Linked DNA regions of Homo sapiens: all the other regions are reported to be linked to region 3. Evidence: microRNA targets listed by miRTarBase, many of them from high-throughput screens and not tested one by one. Region 3 holds a microRNA gene; each other region holds the end of a gene's coding sequence. Distances are between the middles of the regions.
What was found. Region 3 holds the annotated microRNA hsa-miR-665 (ACCAGGAGGCUGAGGCCCCU, at 1,247-1,266, shown strand). A microRNA usually pairs through its seed, bases 2 to 8, with sites in the 3' UTR of a target mRNA and lowers its output. Matches are read on the target gene's strand: a 7mer-m8 pairs with bases 2 to 8, a 7mer-A1 pairs with bases 2 to 7 and ends in A, and an 8mer does both.

Region 1 (4,064 bases), 24 Mb from region 3:
GGTGAGGGGAACATGAGAATATGCAGAGGCCTTGGAGGAAGAGGACTGGCAGTTATGACAGGAAGGCTCTCTATACCTGGCTCCCCAGTGTTCTGCCCCTGGCACTGAGCATGAGGAGCCAGGCTTTGGGGAGACTTTGCAATCACCCCCCCAACCTGGTCCATTTTCCACAGGTAGCTTTCTTGAACTCACCTTGACCCCTCCTCAGCCAGCAGCCCCCACCTCCAGGGGCAAAGGAGCTGAAAGACAGTCCTGAACTGGGGGGAGCTGGGATCACATCAGCCAGGCCCTGTCCCTCACAGGAAGTGAGATGAGGTGATACCATGGATGGTGACTAAGGCCCCAAAGTCCCTGCCTCTCTGCCTCCCCAGAAACCTCACAGCCAGGCCAGCCCCCAGAGCAGAGCCTGTGTAAACATGCCCAGGAGGGGAGGAGGGGTTGCTACATATGAGAAACAGTTAAAAATAAATTTAAAAAGCACCACTATGTCCTGTGCTGGTCTCCACAGCCCCGAAGTCTCAGCTCAGGAAGGGTGAGTGCTGGGGGATTATCAGCTGGGGCTCGGCTCCCTCCCTTGCAGACAGCAAGCAGGTAAGGGCTTCATTTTGCTGTTTTCTCCATGGAGGGCTCTGGGAAAGGATCCTGCAAGTTGGAACCTCCTAAGACTCCAGAACCAGGAGCGGCTCCCTCTCATATCTACTCCCCTCAAACCCTGTCATTCCCGGGAAGCTCCCAGAGGCAGCTGAGGCCACGCCCCTGCTCCTGAGCGGCAGCATCCAGACCCGGAAAGGACCTAGTTTCAGCCTGGCACCTCCCAAGGTGAGCCATCTCTTCTTAGGCATAGTAGGAACATGGAGACCACACTACCCCCACTCCCTGAAAGCTGGGATGGGATGGTGAGTCAAGGGTCACCATGCCCCTATTAGTCTGGCTGGAGTTAGGTTAGGCATCCTCCCAGGGCTCATTGACCCCAGGGGGAACTTGGGGAGGCAAGGGACTGACCAGCTGGCCTCCCAGGGTGCCTCTGGCCAGGCCATGCTGGATCTGGCTCTGGGTCAAGCGCTGCTGGTTTGAAGAGCTGCCAGCCTGTGGCGCCTTCCCTGACAGGCACTCTCATCAGCAAAGGCATCCCTGGTTCTGCCTTCCCTTCCTCTTTGCTTCAAAGGCACCATCCGTCTCCCTGGCAGGCCAAGAGCTACACTGTCTGTACTCCATGCGCCACCCCCGCTGGTGACCCAGCAACTGCAAAGGGCCTCTGGTTTGTCCCGCTCTGGGAGGAGACTCAGTGGCTTTTCCTCCTCCTCAGCTGCAAGGATCCTACCCCAGCCCAGCCCAGCTCTGAGAAACAGGACTTTGCTACAGCCCGCCTCAAAGCATCTTGGTGGACTTCTCCCCAGCACGAGCTCTCTCTACTTCAGGGATTGCAAACTGGCATCCTCTTTTGCCAGTATTGGGTTTTTAAGTTTTTTTTAAGTGATCACCAGCATTTAAAAATCCTATTTCACATAAAAAGTCAGAATTCTGGCCTCTGACAAAGCAGACAATCTGGCAACACAGGGCCGGCACTGTAAGAACAGCTGAGCAGCTGTGGCCCCTTTAACAGGGTGTGCCCTCTTCAGGTAGCCATAGTCCCCACACAGCCCTTCAGGCCTCCTTCTCACCGTTTGCTCGTCATTTGAGCTTACAACCCTAGTTCTGCTCTTCCTTGTGTAGCCCCCCAGCCCTTCTGCAGCCTTACTGACAGCTGTCCCTGGCAGACTTACAGCCTCTCAGTAAAACAAAACCTTAATGGTCATCTCATCCGTTTACCCTTCCACAATCTGAATCCTTTCTACCTTTCTACCGCCTCCTGACAAACAGCCATCTCGTCTCTGCTGTAGGTAACCCATTACTCCTCAAGCAGCCTGATCCTGAACTCTCCCCCACATCCCTTTCTCACTTGCATCCCCCAGTTCCCAGCTGTCCCTCAGTGGCTGCACTGCACCCTTTACCTGCACCTCCTTGTTGCTTGAGCCTCCAGAACCTACCCCTGGCTCTGCCAACCTCTCCGCATCCTCTCACTTTCCCACTGGGTATCTCATGCTGACGGGCAGGCTGGGGACAACCCCAGGTGCCTAGGTTCTTCCCTGCCAGGGCCCTGATGCCCTGCCACAAGTGACTGGCCCAGCCATCATTGCAACCCCAAGCCAAGATGGGCTGTTAAAGAATGGAAGGCAGGCCTGGGGCAGAAGCATCCTAGTCTGGTCTTGATTTCCCCAGCAAGGGCTCCTGGCACTGCTGGCGGAGAGACCCAGGCCCAAGCATCCCGCCCCATCACCCCATGTCCAGCCACAGCTCCTGGACTGGCACCCAGGGTTTGCTCAACTCCCACAGCCATGCTGGCCTCAGTGCCATTCTGGGTCCTCCGCCAAGCCCAGACCCTCCGCAGGGAGCCTGTGGGCTAGAGCAACAGGCAGAGCTGGGACTGAGCAAGTAGACGCAGTTAGGGCCTGGGAACTTTTTGCCCAGAGGTCCTTCCCTGGGCTCGCTCTCATATCACCCCTCCTCTGCCCACACAGCACTGCCCATGGGGGCCTCAAGGGCCTGAAGGCTCTCCTGAGCCACGAGCTCATGCTCTTGGGGCAGATGTGGCCTGTGCCAAGCTCCTGGTTAATGGGCTACACAGACCTTTCTCAGAAGGACTCCTACCCTGCTTCCCTTTCCCTGGGTCAAGATTCTGCCAGGGCAGGCAGAACTGGAGAAACATCTCCACCCCACCCCCACCCCCCATCACAGGCCTGGTAAGGCTGGGAGATTTCCCACTGATAAGATGCACCCAACTCCCAGAGAGAAGCCAGGGGCAGAGGCACCAGCAGAACCAGCAGTTTCCCTCACCTGGCCCCATGACACATGGATTTGTTAAGCACTGGCCTTCCCACCATCAGCAGATCCATTTGGACTAAGTTTTCCCCAAATACCTTAAACTTCAGTTGTAGAGTTAAAAACTCCAAATAAAATACTAACGGCCTCTAGGCCCAAAGTTAGGGGGCTTGGCTCAGTGGGAGCGAGAGCAGCTTGGGGGGCTGAGCTGGAACACACTCTTCCTGCAGCCTCTTGCCCTGCCTTGTCACCAGCCCCGCCTTCCCCATGCATAAGGCTGGTTCCAGCAGGTGGATCCTGGCCCCCAAGAGTGGGTGGGGCCTGGGGTGCTGGCATCCGCCTCAGACCCGGATCTGGTACCCGTTAAGGTCTGGCATGGCTTTGGGCTCGGAAGTCTTCTTGTCACCCGAGGGCCTGTGGGAGGAAGAGAGCAGAGCGGGAGGAGAGTGAGTGGTCTGTTAGGGAGATGGAGTTGGGGAGCCAGCAGCGGCTGCCTGGTGGCTTCCCCGCCACATTCTCCAAGTGGCCCTCCAACGCACAGCACAGTGCGTATGGAAGTGTGTTTTTGGACACCCTGGCCCGCCTGTGCTGTCTGAATGTGGCCCCGGCTCGCTCTCACAGGCTTTCTCGCTGCTGGAGGCTGGCTAATCTGGCTGCAGTTGGTAGGTAACAGCTTAAAGTATAAATCTGTCTGAGGGGAATCTGTCATCTACAAAAGCCTCTTAGATAAAAGTCACAGATGATGGATATTTTGGTGCCAGAGGCCTGCTTAGTACCCCACCCCTGAATTCATACCAGAGAGGTGGCTCCTGAATGACAATTATATTTAAAGCAAGAGTCAGAGTGATGTGTAGGAGCTGAAATCAGAGGAGGAGAGCTGGTATTTCAATGGCTTGTTCTTGCTACCTGGATACAGACAAAAACCAGACTCTTGGGTGGGGGGCAAAGTTATGTTCAAAGCCATCTAATATTCACGCCCTCCCCCATGACATTCCTGGGTGGCTCACTGCCTTGCAGGGGCCCCATCCTTTCTACCTTTTCTCTCACATAACCCATGCTCAGACTAGTGGGCTAGCAGAGTTTGGTTTCTCTGGGGAAGTAGAACTGCCTTGCTGTGGGAAATGTCAATACACAAACCTCTAAACCCACCATCCCAAGTCACCTCCCTTGGGTGGGAGCGAAAAAGAGAGAAGGGTGGGAGAGAG
Region 2 (4,064 bases), not on the chromosome of region 3:
TCTCTGAATTTCTAGTTCACAGAAACAAGAAATACCCTTAAGAGTCCATGTTAAGAATATTTTATTTGTTTTTTGAGATTACATAGTCATTATTGCTGATCTAATACAATCACTTAGACATAAAGATTTCCAAGAACTTCTCAGAAATGGTGATCTTTAGAAGTGTTATTCCTTTCAGTAAGATGACAGAACTAGATGATTACGTATATAGATATATAGATATATATATATATATGTATATATAGAGTTTAGAACCTGTCCACATATAATTTGCTGGTGTTGCCTATTTTCCTTCCGTAATTTTCCTTTATTGAAAAAGCTTAATGCAACAATGCATTTTGATTCCTTTTTAAAAACCACGGCAAAGTTAATTTTGAGAAAACCACAGGAGCAGCAATATCAGATCTGTTTAGAGAAAAGCGAAGCAGCATAAAAGCTTTGCAGGAGTATGTGGCCATGGGGAGCCGTGCTCATATGGGCAAGTAGGATAGGGAGGGAGGAGAGCAGAGGGAAGGTAGAGTAGATACATTTTTTTTCTTTGTTTAAATGAAAAAAAGAAAACTGAATATCTCCATTAAGAAGGCAAAAAAGTGCCAGGCACGGTAGCACACACCTGTGGTTCCAGCTACTCAGGAAGCTGAGGCAGGAGGATTGCTTGAGCCCAGGAGTTTGAGACCAGCCTGGGCAACATAGTGAAACCCTGTCTCTAAGGGTGAAAAGAAAAGAAAGAAAGAAGGCAAAATATTAGCACAGATTCATTGTAGAGAAAATGTTATGTATCCTCACAGACTGGAGCCACATACAAAGAGATAAGTAGCCTTCTTTCCCATGCTTCCAGATAACCAGGATGCATCTAAGGTAAGAGGTTGGAGGAAAGAAGACACATTGCTCTGATTCCAAGGGTAGAGGGAATAATGACCAGATTTCAACCCTAAGATAGAACCCAAATACTTGGGAGGCTTGTGGTTCTTTCTTCTTAATGGTTGATAACACAGTGTCCCTACAGAGAGGTCATCTGAAACTCAGAGGCAAATAACTCATCATGGGCAGCAACACTGGCAACCTAACTTAGAAGCCCCGTGTGGCCCCTTTTTTATTTGGAGTGGGTCTCTTCACTACAGCAAGGCAGAATGTACTCTTTAAGTACCAGCACATAGTAAGCTCCAGAGAGCAAGGCTTTGCTGAGAAACAGCAGGTTATGATTTTTGGTCTAAGAATACAATAGGCTAGAGACCATCTATCTGCCAAATGGAATCTGCTCTGGATATAAGATAAGGTACAAAGATCTGAATCCCTTGCTAAAGGGAACCAATTAATACAAAAATCAGGACTAGGTAGGCAAAAGGAAGAACTGAATGGCTTAGTGGAATTTTTAGCATTTATGATCTTCCTTACAAAAAAAGAATATAACCAGTACTTGCTGAGACATATGGCCTCTGAAGAACTGTAGTCTATGGGCTGAGCCTGTATACTATTAAATGAGGCAAACAGTCATTTACCAAAGTTCCACTTCCCTACTTCCGAAAGTAAGGTCACTTTCAGACTAGCTTTGAGAGTATATGTGAAGACCAGGAGAAGTTGGAGAGGGTAGAGGTAGAAGAAGAGAATCAGGATGGGAAGGTTTTGGTGATCATGCGTGGTCTGGTGTTATCTTGAGTCACCTTGGTCTTGAGACTTTGAGGCAGACCAGCATAGGAAAAAAGTGGGAAACAAACAAACCTGAGAGTGTTAAAAAGGATCGGTAAGGGGAAGAGGCTTATTTAATTCAAGTTTCCTAGGGCCAGTCCAGACTAACTCTTAGAACCAATCTGGTCCTAATGAAATGCCTGAGACCAACAGATCAGTCTCCAAAAGGAATCCAATTTTTGGGTGGGACATAAAATGTCACGCTGCCCACACCACATTACTAATTCTTTTTGTAGCACTGGAGTTACTCAAGAAACTGACTCTGAAATACAGAATCATCAAATGGAAGAGGTTAAATCATAAAAGATATGCCAGCAGAGAAGTCCACAGATCAGACTGCAGATCTCGGTTTCATCCATGGCAATGGCCAAAGGAATGAATGTCTGACGAGGTTCAAACTAGTCAAATTAGCTTTGATAATCTGGATACAGTTTACAATTTCATCTCTGTATCCCTCAGCCAGTCAAACTGCAATGGCCTTCCTGGGAAACAAATAAATATACTCTGCTTTGTTAGGGTATCAAGCTGTGAGTCTGAAAGACCTGTCCCATTTCCAAAGCCTATCCCCCTAAGTCCCTGGAAAAGTATGCCTTTCCCTACTCAGTTTCAGACGTAGCTTTAGGCAATAGCAGGAAGTTTCAGGAAGCAGTGTTTCACAACAAGCTCTCCTTTTCTGAGATAGTGCCAATCTGGAGGGGCTTCCTTGGAAACTATCCAATCAAATGACAAGGAAGTAAAACTATGGGTCCCAGTGGAGCTGGCCCCACTTCCTGAGCAGACGTTGGCTGGATTAGAAAGACAGCAGAACAAATGTCTGACAAATACCAAAACTGTGGAGGAAATAATGGAGGCACATCCCTCTTGCAACCAGGAAGTGTTAAAATGGACATAAATATTCAAGGAGAAGAAAGGAGTCCTGGGTAAGAAAGGAGACCCCTGGTAGGCACAGCACAGCTGAGTTCTTGATGTAGCTTGGCAAAGCCATAAATAACACTCCTTCCTTATTAGCCTTTATATAAAGAAGGCAGTGATAGTGATGGTCAAGATTGGGAACCCAATCTTGTGTGAAACACTGGCCATGTTAATTCCAAACGGCCTCACCCGGGGAAGGGCCAAGCTGAGAAAAGCAGGTGCTGAAAATTTATTCCAGAAAACTCCAGGGAATAGGGAGTATGGAATCCCTGGACTAACTCGTGAGCCTGGACAAGAGGAAAAACGGCCACTGCTGAGGATTCAGTCAATGGGGAATGATGCAAATGATGCACTGGGAGCAGTAACCCCATTTCTTTCCTTCCTCAGCCCATCCTCTGTGGCTTTCATGGCCCTCAGGGCAGTAACCACACTCTGGGCCAACACTACAGGCACAGGATTCTTGATTTTAATAAATAAATAACCTAACACACAGGGTGAGCACGGCAGGCAGCTTTGATTGGAGAAGCAGCTTGCTGAATTCTTTCTTGTATAGTAGTGGAGAAAAGGCTTGGAGTTCTATTCCTTAAAAATTCTGGTTTGAGTTACAGGAACTTAATACCTGGAGGGAAAAAGAAAGATGAGACTGTGATGTTATCAGCTAATGGGGATGCTGGGACATGAAGAGCCTGCCTAAAGGTGTAACAGGGAGGCAGAGACTTTTCTGGAGTGTACAGTGACAGGAAATAACTGTGTTTCCTTTTCACATCATTGAAAAAGGCCAATATTTCTCCATAAAGAGATAAAAATCATAGCAACAAGATGAAATGGGGAAAGGAATTGAGGAAGGGGAACTTTATTTAATGAGGCAAATAGCCACTTACCCAAACTCCACCTCTCTATCTCCAAAAGGCAAATTCAGGAAGGGGAATACTATTTAAGGCCTTGAAGAGTCTTTTGAAGGTGGCAGTGAGGGGAAGTGGGTTCATTTTTCTGAGTTCATGTAAGCATATGTGGTTGGGGATGCAAAGACCAATTCCAGTGCAGGAAGCTCATCACTGCCCAGGTGTCCCTGATTTCTGGGGAGCCCAAGGCACCTGTAGTAATTAGGCTTGAAGGGCCCATTCTTGTTGAGTCCCAGATACTTGGCCTGTTCATCTGTCAGCTCTGTCAAGTGGGCATCAAAGGTAGGCAGGTGTAGGCTGGCCACATACTCATCTGGAACAGACCACAGAAGCCCTGGTATAAGCATTCATGCCTTTTATCTGATGGCTATTGTCCCCAAGCTAGGCCTTAAAAAGTTCAAAGACACCTTCTAATTCCTGGAGCTGAATGAAAAATGTTCAACCTTCGCTCACTGGTCCTCAATTCTAAGGAATAGCTGCCTTCAGCTTCAAGCCCAGTGCTTTCCAAAGCCTTAATAATTCATCCTTACTAACTCAGCTTTGAACCCTGCCTTCCAGAAAAGT
Region 3 (4,067 bases):
TGTAATCCACATACACACAATCCGCCCATTAAAGCTCACAGCGAAGTGTGTTTTAGTTATTCACAGATATCTGCAACTATCACCATAATCAATTTAAGATCATTTTCATCACCCCCAAAAGAACTCCAGAGCCTTCAGCTGTCACCTTCACCCTCCATGCACACCCCCCAGCCCTCAGCAACCAAAAATCTACTTTCTGTCTCTGGGAAATTCTTGAAGTGCCCCTGGACTTCATGAGTCCTCACTGGGTCCCCAGAGGTGCCTGTTGCAACCCATTTCACAGATGTAGAAGGCAAGGCTGGAGAAGTACCAGGGAGTCAAAGCAGTGGGTGGGTGGGGTCGAGTCCCCGATGTCCACTCACAGACCTGGGCCAGAATCAGGCCTGTCTCCCCCTTCACCTCCCCATCCTCCGTCCCTTGGCCTGGCTGCACAGTCACCTGGGGGCTCTGTGGGGCTAAGGGAGGCCCAGGCCCTGGCCATAGGAGGCAGGTAGGGCAAGGCTGGGCAGGGTGGACAGGTACCCCAGCGCTGCAGGTGCCCAGCAGTGGGTGGCACTGCCTAGGCTGGCTGTCCCTTGCTGTCACTGCTCTAACCACTAGCAGCAGGCGTCCCCTCTGCCATCCGAGCGCTTGCACTGCGCTTCCGGGAGGAGGGTTGCGGCCCGTAGTCAGTAGTTGGGGGGTGGGAACGGCTTCATACAGGAGTTGATGCACAGTTATCCAGCTCCTATATGATGCCTTTCTTCATCCCCTTCAACCACGCGCAGCCCCCGGACCCTCCTCTGCACCCTTGGCTGCACGGGGACGCGTCCTCAAGTCCGCTGCTGTCCTGCCAGCCTCTTCCCGGCATGCTCCTTGGGCTCTTCTCTCTCTCTTCTGCAGCTCTCTGACTTCCTGGAGGGGAGGGCCTGGGGCTGGGCCATCTCTGAGGCCCCTCCTTGGCAGGGAACTATGCCCCTGGTGGGACACCCCCTGGGCTGACTCCACAGCCAAGGGCAGATAGGCCGGAGGGGGAGTTGGGTAGCCCTGGGGCTTCTCCCACTGAGGGGCTGGGGCTGTGCTCCCACACAGAGCCCTCCAAAGGGACCCGGCCCACAGGATGGATGGACAGACGTTGGAGAGATGGTGCCCCTTTGTGCCCAGGGTGGAGGGGGTGGGGCTTTGGCGGACCAGGGCTGGCCCTTTCTGTGCCCCAAGAGGAGGGTCTCCTCGAGGGGTCTCTGCCTCTACCCAGGACTCTTTCATGACCAGGAGGCTGAGGCCCCTCACAGGCGGCTTCTTACTCTCTCCTTAAACCTGTTCTGGAGACATTTCCCCTCTCCCCAAGGATTCCCAACTCTGGGTCCCCAGAAGCTGTCAGCTGGGCTCCCTTCTTCCCCTGTGCGTACCCTGCTCAGGCTGGGTACCTGAGGGTGCCCAATGGCAACATGAGCAGGGGGCACGGCCGTGGCCCCTGGTTCTTGGACCTCTGTCTTCTGCCTCTCTGACTAACTCAGGTCCTGTGCATGGCAGAGGTGACCCGCACCAAGCCCTGTGATATTGGCATCATTAACCCCATTAACAAGCCACGACAGCCAGCCCAGGCATGAGCATCGGGGCAGCAGGGCAGCCAGTGTGGGGAGAGAGGCCTTGCAGTAGCTGAGGCCATTAGAGAGGACAAGAGGGTGCAGGAGGGAGCATCCTCACCTCTGCCCTTCCCACTTACATCCCATCTCCCCTTCCTCACCCCTCCTTCCCCATGCACCCCTTCTTCCTGTAGGAGGGAGCACCCTCACCTCTGCCCTTCCCACTCACCTCCCATCTTCCCTTTCTCACCCCTCCTCCCCAATGCACCCCCTCCCTTCCTGCAGGAGGGAGCACCCTCTCCCCTGCCCTTCCTTCCCACCTCCCGTCTCCCCTTCCTCACCCCCGCTTCCCCCATGCACCCGCTCCCTTCCTGGTCTACCCCTCAGCTTCTGTGGTGTCAGGATGGGTATGCTTGTCTTTGTTGATCTCAGACAGGTGGACAGGGGTCTGGACGAGGCTTACTGTTTGGGTCTGAGGTCAGTGCTCATGGGCTTGGGGCATGACAAGGGTCTTGTCGTCCCCGCAGCAGGGCTCTGAGCGGGTGGGTGGAGCTTGGGAGTGGGGGTGATGGCTTCTATTTGTTGTCTTTCTCTTTTTCACTTTGGGAGCAACCGGGGTCACCAGGTGGGCAGGAGGGGACCTCACGTCTCTGCCCTGGGCAGATTGTTAAGAGCTGGTCAAGCTCCTGGCACGGGGGCCTGAGTCCAAGGCCCTAACTGGACCTGGGGCCGCCTGCAGGAGGGATGAGCGAGTCCGGACCCGAGCGGTGAGTAGCCCTCAGCTGCCTGGGTGGTGTGCTGTTGAGTGTTCCAGAAACTGGCCCTGTGTGCACCAGGGCTGGAGGCTGGCACGTTGGGCATCTCATGGGGGTGGGCTGGGTCGGGAAGGGAGGTTGATGGACAAGACTCAGCAGGAGTGGAGCTCAGGGCTCCCTCCATCCCCTGACATCAGTGACCTGGGGGTGGACAGAGAAGGTGGAAGATGGGTGCATTTAGTTGTGGCCCGCCAGGTCCCGTGGGCCTGTGTGCCAGTGTCCGCGCCAGGCTGTGCTGTCTGCTGTTCAGAGGAGTTTTCACCTTTTTTTGTGGTGGCCATGATGTCATAACCCAGCATGACATTTAACATTAACCTTCCTTTTTCTTTCCCCAGGAGAAAAAAAGGTTTGTATTATTTTTCTTTTGAATTTTTTATTTCCATAGGTTTTGGGGAACAGGTGGTGTTTGGTTACATGAGTAAGTTCCTTGGTGGTGATTTGTGAGATTCTCGTGCACCCATCACCTGAGCAGTACACACTGAACCCAGTTTGTACTTTTATCCCTCACCCCCTCCCACCCTTTTCCTGGAGTCCCCAGAGTCCGTTGTATCACTTTATCAGTAGTTCTCCTCTGGGCCTGGGGGCTGCCGCTCTTCTCTGTAAACTAAACCTGCTGTGGCTGGATGGGGCAGGGGAGCCAAGGAGGCGAGGTCCTCACTGTCTGCTGGTGTGGGGGGCCGTGGCCACTCTAGCACCGGGAGCCCCCAGTCAATATGTGTGTGTGTGTGTGAACTGTGGATAAATACGCTTACCTTAGCGCGTGTCTGGATTCCCCCACTGTGGGGCACGGGTGATTACTGCTGGTAAATTCTCTGTTTGGCCTTACCCTGCAAGGTAGTCCTGTTCATCCCTCCACCTTTTTTTTTTTTTTTTCTTGAGACGGAGTTTCACTCTTGTTGCACAGGCTGGAGTGCAGTGGCGCGATCTCAGCTCATCGCAACCTCCGCCTCCCAGGTTCAAACGATTCTCTGCCTCAGCCTCCTGAGTAGCTGGGATTATAGGCATGCGCCACCATACCCAGCTAATTTTTTGTTATTTAGTAGAGACGGGGTTTCTCCATGTTGGTCAGGCTGGTCTCGAGCTCCTGATCTCAGGTGATCCATCTGCCTCGGCCTCCCAAAGTGTTGGGATTACAGGCGTGAGCCACTGCACCCGGCCTTGCCCCTCCATCTTTGATGGCCAGGAGGAAAGGATGGCGGTCGTCGACGGTCCTGGCTGCAGGGACACGGGGACTGCCAATCCACCCCACATTTACCCAAGGAGCCCTTACCAAGCAGGGACAGAGATTTGCCATTAAAATCCAGCCTCTGGGACCCCCCAGGGGTGGCCTTCAGGAGACCTGATCTAGGGACCCTCCATTATGACCCCAGGCTCTATCCCAAGGTAGTTTACTTCAAGGGACTTGGGAGCCCCAAGAAGAATGTCATCTGGGAACAGAGGGGGTTTTAGGAGCCAGCGGCCCTTGGAGACTGGGTCTGGTTATTCTGGAAATGACCCTCCCTCTCACTACATCCCCCATTTGATGATGGGAAAACAGGCTGGAAGATGGACAGCCACTACCTGAGGTCACCCAGCAAGTCAAAGTTGGGGCCTTCTGGGGCCAGGTCACTAAAGGGGATCTGCACCTCTTGCAGCTGAGCCCCTGGCCTTAACCCATGGCAGCCTGTCTTGGGCTGCCATCAGAGGC
Region 4 (4,064 bases), not on the chromosome of region 3:
CGTGAGGACACACAAGTTTAGTTACTTGCCTAAAGTCATCTGGAAATAAGTGAAAGTCCTTATTTGAACTCAGGCTTCCTTGTGGAGACCATGTCCTCGGCCACTATACTTCACTGACTCTACACAGGTTTCATGCAAACGGCTTCCTTCGCACAATGACACTATCCAGACCTGAGAACCGCCAGGTCTAAATGAGAATGGCTCCTCAGTAGGAAGACAATTGAAGTACTGTATTCTGCTTCCTTCTCCATGTCTCTAGGCCTTTAGCTGAAGCTGGAGAAGAGAAATGAAGGGTCTCCCCAGCCCAGGAACTCCTTGGGTACAGCTGTGGCCAATTACTCAAGGTCTTGATGCAGACAGACTTCAGGTCCCCAATGTCTGCCTTCAGCTAACACCATCTTCAGGTGTTGTCCTGGTGGTGATCCTCTCATTTCTGAATCCCACGGAGGAAAATTCCCCTGCATTGCAGGATTGGTGTTCAGTACCGTTTCACGCCCAGTGTCTTCATACACAAAACATGAAATTATTTTCCAGGCTTTCACCTTCAGACAAATTTGCTAATAGAGACATGCACTCCTATGGAAGGCTATTCCATACTCACTGTTTTTTCAGGCTTTTCTTTTCTCTTTCTCCTCCCCGCTTTTCCCTCCCCCTTTATTTTTCCCACTTGCATATCGTTCTCTGGAAGGAACCGGGGGTGGTGCCTAAACCATGTTCCATCCCTGGTCTGAGCAGGCTCAGCCGCACCAGTTCATTGGGTCTGTGCTACAAGGGAGACCCCACCATGTCTGGGATCAGCCTGAATGGCTTGTATCTGGCTGTAGGTACACTTGAGGACCTGGGCCCATTTCTGGAGCATGCGAGTAGATGGGGGCCGCAGTAGGAGCTTGTCTGGTGCTTAGTGGGGCTGAGGCACTCAGAATCCCCACCTGAGCTGTGGCCATCCTCTCCTTTGTTATTTAGCCTGCATCTCCCCAAAAGTAGACAGTGCATTAGGTTCAGCTGGAGCTCAAGTACGGGAGCTCTCCTGTGTGAGGAGCACATGGAAACCTCAGGTTAAAAACAACCAAAGCTGGTCTCATCTTCAGCAAAAAGAAGCCCAATCCATGTCCCCACGACTACGGGGAACGAGTACTCCATGGCACCCTCCTTCCTGCCCACACATCAGCCCTGCCAGAGACCAGCCTTGCTGGAGGATGCCTGGGCACTTCCGTAGCTGCCTTTACTCAGGTCATCCTAGTTCCTACTCCTCTCAGAAAACCCAATTCAACGTCCTGCCCAGATGTCACCAATTCCTCCCTCTTGGTTGGTCCTAGTCGCTGTCCTCTGAGCACCTGCAGTCTTAATTCATCCATTAGGGTGGTTGTGCTCACAGCCTTTCTCCCTTTATTCATCCTCATCTACCAGAATCTACTCCTGCTGCCATCCTCTCCCACCCAGTACCTGGGACAGGGACAGTGCCTAGTAGATCCTCAAGTATTTGCTGAATAAATCAGTCCAAGTCTGTGTATAGGGTCAGGCTTGCCAGTGTCATGTGCAAAGGAGGATAGAGAGCAAGTATGATCAGAACAGTCCAAGTGGAGCAGTGGTAGAAATGCTCCATCTCCCTTTCCTCCCTCAACTCCACCCTTCCCCACCGCAGCCATCAAAACTTACTGGTAGGGGTTTGGATACAAAGTGAAACAAATATACTCCTAGAAAGAGCATGGAAACTATCTGGCTACAGAGATAGGAGTCCCAGAAGGAGATGGGAAACTACATGGCTGAGATTGTTCTCTTGTAAAGACAATGGGTTTTGAAACCAGATACCAGACTTCAAATTCAGCCTTTGCTGATTGGCCCACTCACAGTATTCTCAGACAGGTTACTCAATTCTCAGAAGAGTCTATTTTTACCCTTTGAGTTACCTAGTTAACAGCTTCATACACAGCAGTAGTTTATGTTCAATTCTACATGTTCCTGACAGAGCTGTGTGTGGTGACTGATCACTCACACAACCTACCTGCTCCCGAGTTAGGATCTGGCCCAGTAACGACGATCACATGGCTCCACTGTGGTCCCCTCAAAATCTATCCTGTGCTCCTCCTAGGGAGGCACCTTCTAACTTCTGGTGAAACCAGCTGAGCTGCTAGCCCTGTGGGATGAGTCTACTACCCTCTCTGGTTTGGATCTGGTATAACTTACCCAACAAAGATCTGGCACACAAATGGCTCTTGGGTATCCTCCATCTAAACTCACAGCCCGTTTTGATTTAAGGAATTTCTTTATTGGAATTCCACTTTACCTCGCCACAAGGAGCTGGCTTTCATGACAAAGAGAGAGTGAGCCCTGAACAAAGTATTCGTTAACATTTTACAACAGACAACATATACATGTCCTGCATGACATCTTTACAATAACACATTCCAAAAACAATCAAACATTTAACAGGATTATTAAGAAACATTAATTTCCTTCTCTCTAGATGACTGGTACTTTAGCTTTTTAGCTTCTGCAATAAAATGCGTTCCTTCTCAGCATTTCTATTCATAGGAATCCCTGAATCACTTCTGTCATGTAAGGTGCGAATTCATGTTGACGGTGTGTTCCATTAGTTACTGAATGTGTCAAAATCCTCTCCACGGTAGAACCTTTTATTGTAGCATAATGTGTGAATACCACTTCCAGGTTATCCCTCATCACAAATTCATCATTCATTATGGGAGTTCATCTGAAACTTTAAAAAAGTTTCATCCATTCAACTAATGTATCACAATAGTACGTTCATCAATTTGCATTTTTTATGAGTGACTCTCTCCTATCTCCTGTTAGACTTGTAAGTCTATGCTTTCTACTTTTCCTAAAAGGAAATCCAAATTTTGTTTCAGAAGTCATCATCACTGCCCCCTCCCAAACCAATTACATCAAGTTTATACTTAAAGACCACTAATATTAAATAAATTTATATTCCCTGAAACCTATCCTCCCTGAATTTGCCTGTTGGAGGCCCTTAGTTTTCCCACTGACCAATGTGTAATTGGGATTCAAAGCTATACCTGAATTTCCTACATTTCTAGTAACAGAATTTACCAAACATGAACTTTCTGATGGTGATTACGTAACTTCTAATTGAAGCCCTTTCCTCATCTGTGTTTTATGTCCAGAAATGTCTACTGATTTTGAAGATTTGCTTCACATTCCATCACTCAGATCTAAGTTTTTCTCTCAAGTATGGACTGTTTTATATCCTGTAAGAGCTGAACTACCTTGACACTGGAGCCTTTCTTGCTTGCTATGATTGAAAATCACATAGAAAGGATTCCTCATAATCCTCTAGGATGGTTTCATTTACACTGTGTAAATTACAAGCCATGACCCCCTACATTCTTACATTCATAAGGTATTTCTTCCATTTGAGTTCGGAGAGACTTGGTAAGCTCTGCCTGCTACAGAGGCATCCTCATCCTGCCCCCATCCAGGGCATTCCCTCCCTCATAGGTTCTCTTCTGGGATGTGCCACTATAACTTCCCACATATATCACATTTAAAGATTCCTCTCCAGTATGGGTTCTTTTATGCTTGGTGAGATTTGATCTGATATTAAAAGCCTTACCACACTCATTACATCGGTATGGCTTCTTTCCAGTGTGGATCCTTTTGTGCTGGTCAAGGACTGATCTATAATTGAAGGATTTCCCACACTCACAATTATAGGGCTGCTTCCCCTGGTGGACACTTTTATGATTGATAAGACTTGAGTGTGAGATGTATGCCTTCCCACACTCATCACATTCATAGGGTTTCTCACCTGTGTGGATCCTTTTATGCACTGTGAGGCCTGAGCTGTTCCTGAAGGCCTTCCCACACCTATCACACACATAGGGTTTCTCCCCTGTGTGGATCCTCTTGTGCTGAGAAAGGAGAGAGCTGTAACTGAAAGATTTCCCACACTCAACACACTTGAAGGGTTTCTCCCCAAGATGGACTCTTTTATGGCTTATAAGAGTTCTGCTTGAGAAAAAAGCTTTTCCACATTCATCACATGTATGGGGTGTCCTGCCAGGGTGGGTACTCTTATGGTTAAT
Region 5 (4,064 bases), not on the chromosome of region 3:
TTCCTTCTGCACTGTAGCATGTCTGCCTCATAAGGGAGCTGTTATCCCATCCGTTTCATGACTTCCTGCACCAGGTCCCAGCAGCAGATGTGCTAATGCTGTGTGCTTATGAGCTCCAGGTGTTTCCAAGGAGGAACGTGGGGCTCTTAACTTGCTGGAGTTCAGCATATTCATTTTTCCCTTGTGGGGACTGCTTGCTGTTCTCTTGGTCCCCATCCTTCCAGGTCCAGCCACATGTCTTAAGGCTTCAGTATTTCAGAAATTTTCTCTCATCTTCCCAAAGTCTGTTGTTTCTGTACCTTAGTGCTGTTCAAAACATGTTGTCTATATTAGCATCTATCTATCTTGGGCATTCCAGAAAAGCTGGGCTTACTGTATCTGTATTGGTTGCTTACCAATTTTCCATAATTTAATTTCAAAGCACTCTCCATCTGCATGTAGCAAGAACATGTACGCACCATATATTCATCAGTATGACCTGTTTTATTTTTGTTCTTTTTCCTGCTCCAACTCTGATTTCTTCAAAGTGGGCCGAGTACATTCTATTTGCCGCGTTGCTTCTGGTCGTCTGTGTAATTTTTGCCATCATGGCTCGGTTCTATACTTACATCAACCCAGCGGAGATCGAAGCTCAATTTGATGAGGATGAAAAGAAAAACAGACTGGAAAAGAGTAACCCATATTTCATGTCAGGGGCCAATTCACAGAAACAGATGTGAAGGTCAGGAGGCAAGTGGAGGATGGACTGGGCCCGCAGATGCCCTGACCTCTGCCCCCAGGTAGCAGGACACTCCATTGGATGGCCCCTGATGAGGAAGACTTCAGAATTGGGAACTAAACCATGAATGCTATTTTCTTTTTTCTTTTTCTTTTCTTTTTTTTTTTTTTTTTTTTTTTGAGACAGAGTTTTGCTCTTGTTGTCCAGGCTGGAGTGCAATGGCACGATCTCAGCTCACTGCAACCTCCGCCTCCCAGGTTCAAGTAATTCTCCTGCCTCAGCCTCCCGAGTGGCTGGGATTAGCGGCATGCACCACCACGCCCAGCTATTTTTGTATTTTTAGTAGAGATGGGGTTTCACCATGTTGGCCAGGATGGTCTCGATCTCTTGACCTGGTGATCTGCCCACCTCGGCCTGCCAAAGTGCTGGGATTACAGGCTTGAGCTACCGCGCCCGGCCGTGAACGCTATTTTCTAAGCAGCCAGCAGTGAATCTAAAACTCTGGAAGAAGTCTTCTGTTTGAAAGGCTTATTTAAGCCACACGTACACACACTGTCTTAGAGTACTGTGAGCCCACCCCACATTGGTCATCTTCCCTATCACACAAATGATGTTATTTTGGACTAGCTTAATTTTGAAATGGTAACAAAGTTTCCTATTCCATACTGTTCATTTCTAATACTCTTACGAAAACTATTCTAAAGGAGGCAGGAGCCAAGGCCAAAAGTGAACGTACAGGTTTGAAATGGCTGTGATAAGGACCAGCTGGTATTAACTGATAACTTTACCTTTGGGTTTTTGTTATTTTGTTTTTCTAGTCCCTACCTGTGTTTAAATTATGGATAACTCGAAAGACAGCTCAGGTGAAGGCCAGTAATGATTTTTTTGAAGTTTCAATGGTGTGAAATAAATTTCTGTTCTTAAGCCTAAGTGTTCATGTATCTCTGGGTAGGGTAAGAAATCTTTAACATCCTATCTGATTATAAAAGCAGCACCTGCTCATTAAAATTTCTTCCTGGTCCTGTTTTCCCCAGGGATGATTGATTGATTGGTTGATTGATACATAGGCAGACAAACAGATAAAGAAAGGTAGATAGGCAGATAGATAGATGATAGATAGATAGATTAGATAGATAGATGAACAGATAAAGGTAGGTAGGTAGATGATCGATAGATAGATAGACAGACAAACAGATAAAGGTAGGTAGGTAGATAGAAGATAGATAGATAGGCCGGGCACAGTGGCTCACGCCTGTAATCCCAGCACTTTGGGAGGTAGAGGCGGGTGGATCATGAGGTCAGGAGATCAAGACCATCCTGGCTAACACGGTGAAACCCCATCTCTACTAAAAATATAAAAAATTAGCTGGGTGTGGTGGCAGACGCCTGTAGTCCCAGCTACTGGGGAGGCTGAGGCAGGAGAATGGCGTGAACCTGGGAGGCGGAGCTTGCAGTGAGCTGGAATCACACCACTGCACTCCAGCCTGGGCGACAGAGCAAGACTCCATCTCAAAAAAAAAAAAAAAGAAGAAGATAGATAGATCGATAGATGATGGATAGATACAGGTAGGTTGGTAGATAGATGATAGATAGATAGATAAATGTAGGTAGGTAGGTAGGCAGGTAGATGATAGATAGATTAGATAGATAGATAGGAGAGACTTATATTACTAGGACCGTCCTATGTGCACATTTGTGTACCATCTCCTAGTGTTTTTCTCGATACTCACAAACATTTCCTGCTGGCGTAAAAATTCTTCTAAAACATTTTAAACACCTAATGCCTAATTTATCCTAGAGATGTTTATCATTTAGCCATCCCAGGTATCAGGTCCAGAATGAGTCTACCTTGGCACTCCTACACAAACAAGCCACAGTTCTTAGACAAACTAGTGCGCAACTCTGATGATTGAAACTGGTTCCTGCATTAGAAGGAAGAGTTCGCATTTGGCCTCTAAAATGCTTATATACAAGCTCGCCATTGCACCATAGGGGCTGCATTGAAGGGGAGACTCAAAGTCCAGAGTGAGAAACATAATGTGATTATCAAATCTTAACACTTTTTCTAGCCTTGGGATCGAGTCCTAATTCCTTAACTAGGGGCCATGAGGCTCTTTTTCCCTCTGGACACACTTCCTTTCTCTCCATGCACTCTGATCCTGCCAGCATGGAGCTGCTGCTCCTTCCTGGAACACATCACATTCTCATTCCCAAGTCAAAAGGCAAGAAAAAGAATACCCCAAGATACTTAATTTCCACCACCCCCAACCCCTCCACCTGGCTAAGCCCTCTTCATTTTCATGCCATGTCCTCCAAGAGTTTTCCTGTCCTCCCTCCCTCCCATGCTAGGCTGTGGCCCTGCTCTGAGCTCCCATAACACAGCTTCACATTTTCAAGTTGCACAGACCTCAGTGGATCATCACTATCTAGCTTTTCCTAGACCAAAAGCTCTTCTGTATATCTTGTTCACTGTTCAGTCTCCAGAACATAGTAATCCTCTATTTGTTTTTTAATTTTTAATTTTTTTTTTAAGAGACAAGTTTTTACTCTGTTATCCAGGCTGGAGTGCAGTGGCACGATCATAACTCACTGCAACCTTGAACTCCTAGGTTCACGGGATCCTCTCACCTCAACCTCCCAAGTAGCTAGGACTACAGGCTTGTGCCACCACACCCAGCTAAGTTTTTAATTTTTTTTGTAAAGGCAGGGTCTCACTGGCTGGTCTCGAACTCCTGGGCTTAAGACTTCCAAAGTGCTGGGATTACAGGCATAAGCCACAGCACCCAGCCCTAGTGCTCCACTCTTATAGTTGCAGTATAAGTTTGGGCAGGTTTTGATCTTTTTAATCATTTCCTCTCCTGTGAAATAAAGAGAATACCAGGCAGACAATGTGAGGCCTTAAAAATCCTTTGTTTGGCTGGGTCCAGTGGCTCACGCCTGTAATCCCAGCACTTTGGGAGGCCGAGGCGGGTGGATCACTTGAGGTCAGGAATTTGAGACCAGACTGGCCAACATGGTGAAACCCCATCTCTACTAAAAATACGAAAATTAGCCAGGCATGTGGCACATACCTGTAATCCCAGCTACTCGGGAGGCTGAGGCAGCAGAATCACTTGAACCCGGGAGGCGGAGGTTGCAGTGAGCCGAGATCGCATCACTGCACTCCAGCCTGGGCAACAGAGTGAGACCCCGTCTCAAGAAAAATAAAAATAAAAATAAAAAAATAAATCCTTTGTTTAAGGGTGCCTGGCACACAACAGGCATTCATATATTTGAATGAAGGTCGTTGTCATGCCCCTCAACCAAGTCTGATATTAACACATAGTGTTCTTTGCGTGTGAGTAAC

Region 1: miRTarBase lists VASH1 as a target of hsa-miR-665. Seed matches in the 3' UTR shown: 7mer-m8 at 674-680 and 7mer-m8 at 421-427.
Region 2: the mRNA of AHCYL2 is a reported target of hsa-miR-665. Seed matches in the 3' UTR shown: 7mer-m8 at 1,569-1,575 and 7mer-m8 at 662-668.
Region 4: the mRNA of ZFP62 is a reported target of hsa-miR-665. The part of its 3' UTR that is shown has no 7-base or 8-base seed match.
Region 5: the mRNA of SLC15A1 is a reported target of hsa-miR-665. The part of its 3' UTR that is shown has no 7-base or 8-base seed match.

The regions. Positions count from the first base shown.
Region 1 is chr14:76,778,155-76,782,218 of GRCh38, reverse strand. VASH1 (vasohibin 1) reads right to left here. Exons shown (of 7, transcript NM_014909.5): 7 at 1-3,273. The coding sequence ends at 3,201. VASH1-AS1 (VASH1 antisense RNA 1) reads left to right here. Exons shown (of 2, transcript NR_104184.1): 2 at 1-486. Among named protein-coding and RNA genes, the nearest start is that of VASH1-AS1, 6.5 kb to the left of the region's middle.
Region 2 is chr7:129,426,192-129,430,255 of GRCh38, reverse strand. AHCYL2 (adenosylhomocysteinase like 2) reads right to left here. Exons shown (of 17, transcript NM_015328.4): 16 at 3,693-3,813; 17 at 45-3,217. The coding sequence ends at 3,211. Among named protein-coding and RNA genes, the nearest start is that of STRIP2, 6.2 kb to the left of the region's middle.
Region 3 is chr14:100,873,829-100,877,895 of GRCh38, forward strand. It overlaps MIR665 (microRNA 665), which reads left to right and starts at 1,205; the gene lies at 1,205-1,276. It overlaps MIR337 (microRNA 337), which reads left to right and starts at 665; the gene lies at 665-757. RefSeq lists an enhancer at 1-13 and a silencer at 3,367-3,577.
Region 4 is chr5:180,845,367-180,849,430 of GRCh38, forward strand. It overlaps ZFP62 (ZFP62 zinc finger protein), which reads right to left. Exons shown (of 2, transcript NM_001172638.2): 2 at 2,245-4,064. The coding sequence ends at 3,426. Among named protein-coding and RNA genes, the nearest start is that of ZFP62, 14 kb to the right of the region's middle.
Region 5 is chr13:98,681,379-98,685,442 of GRCh38, reverse strand. SLC15A1 (solute carrier family 15 member 1) reads left to right here. Exons shown (of 23, transcript NM_005073.4): 23 at 528-1,642. The coding sequence ends at 719. Among named protein-coding and RNA genes, the nearest start is that of SLC15A1, 69 kb to the left of the region's middle.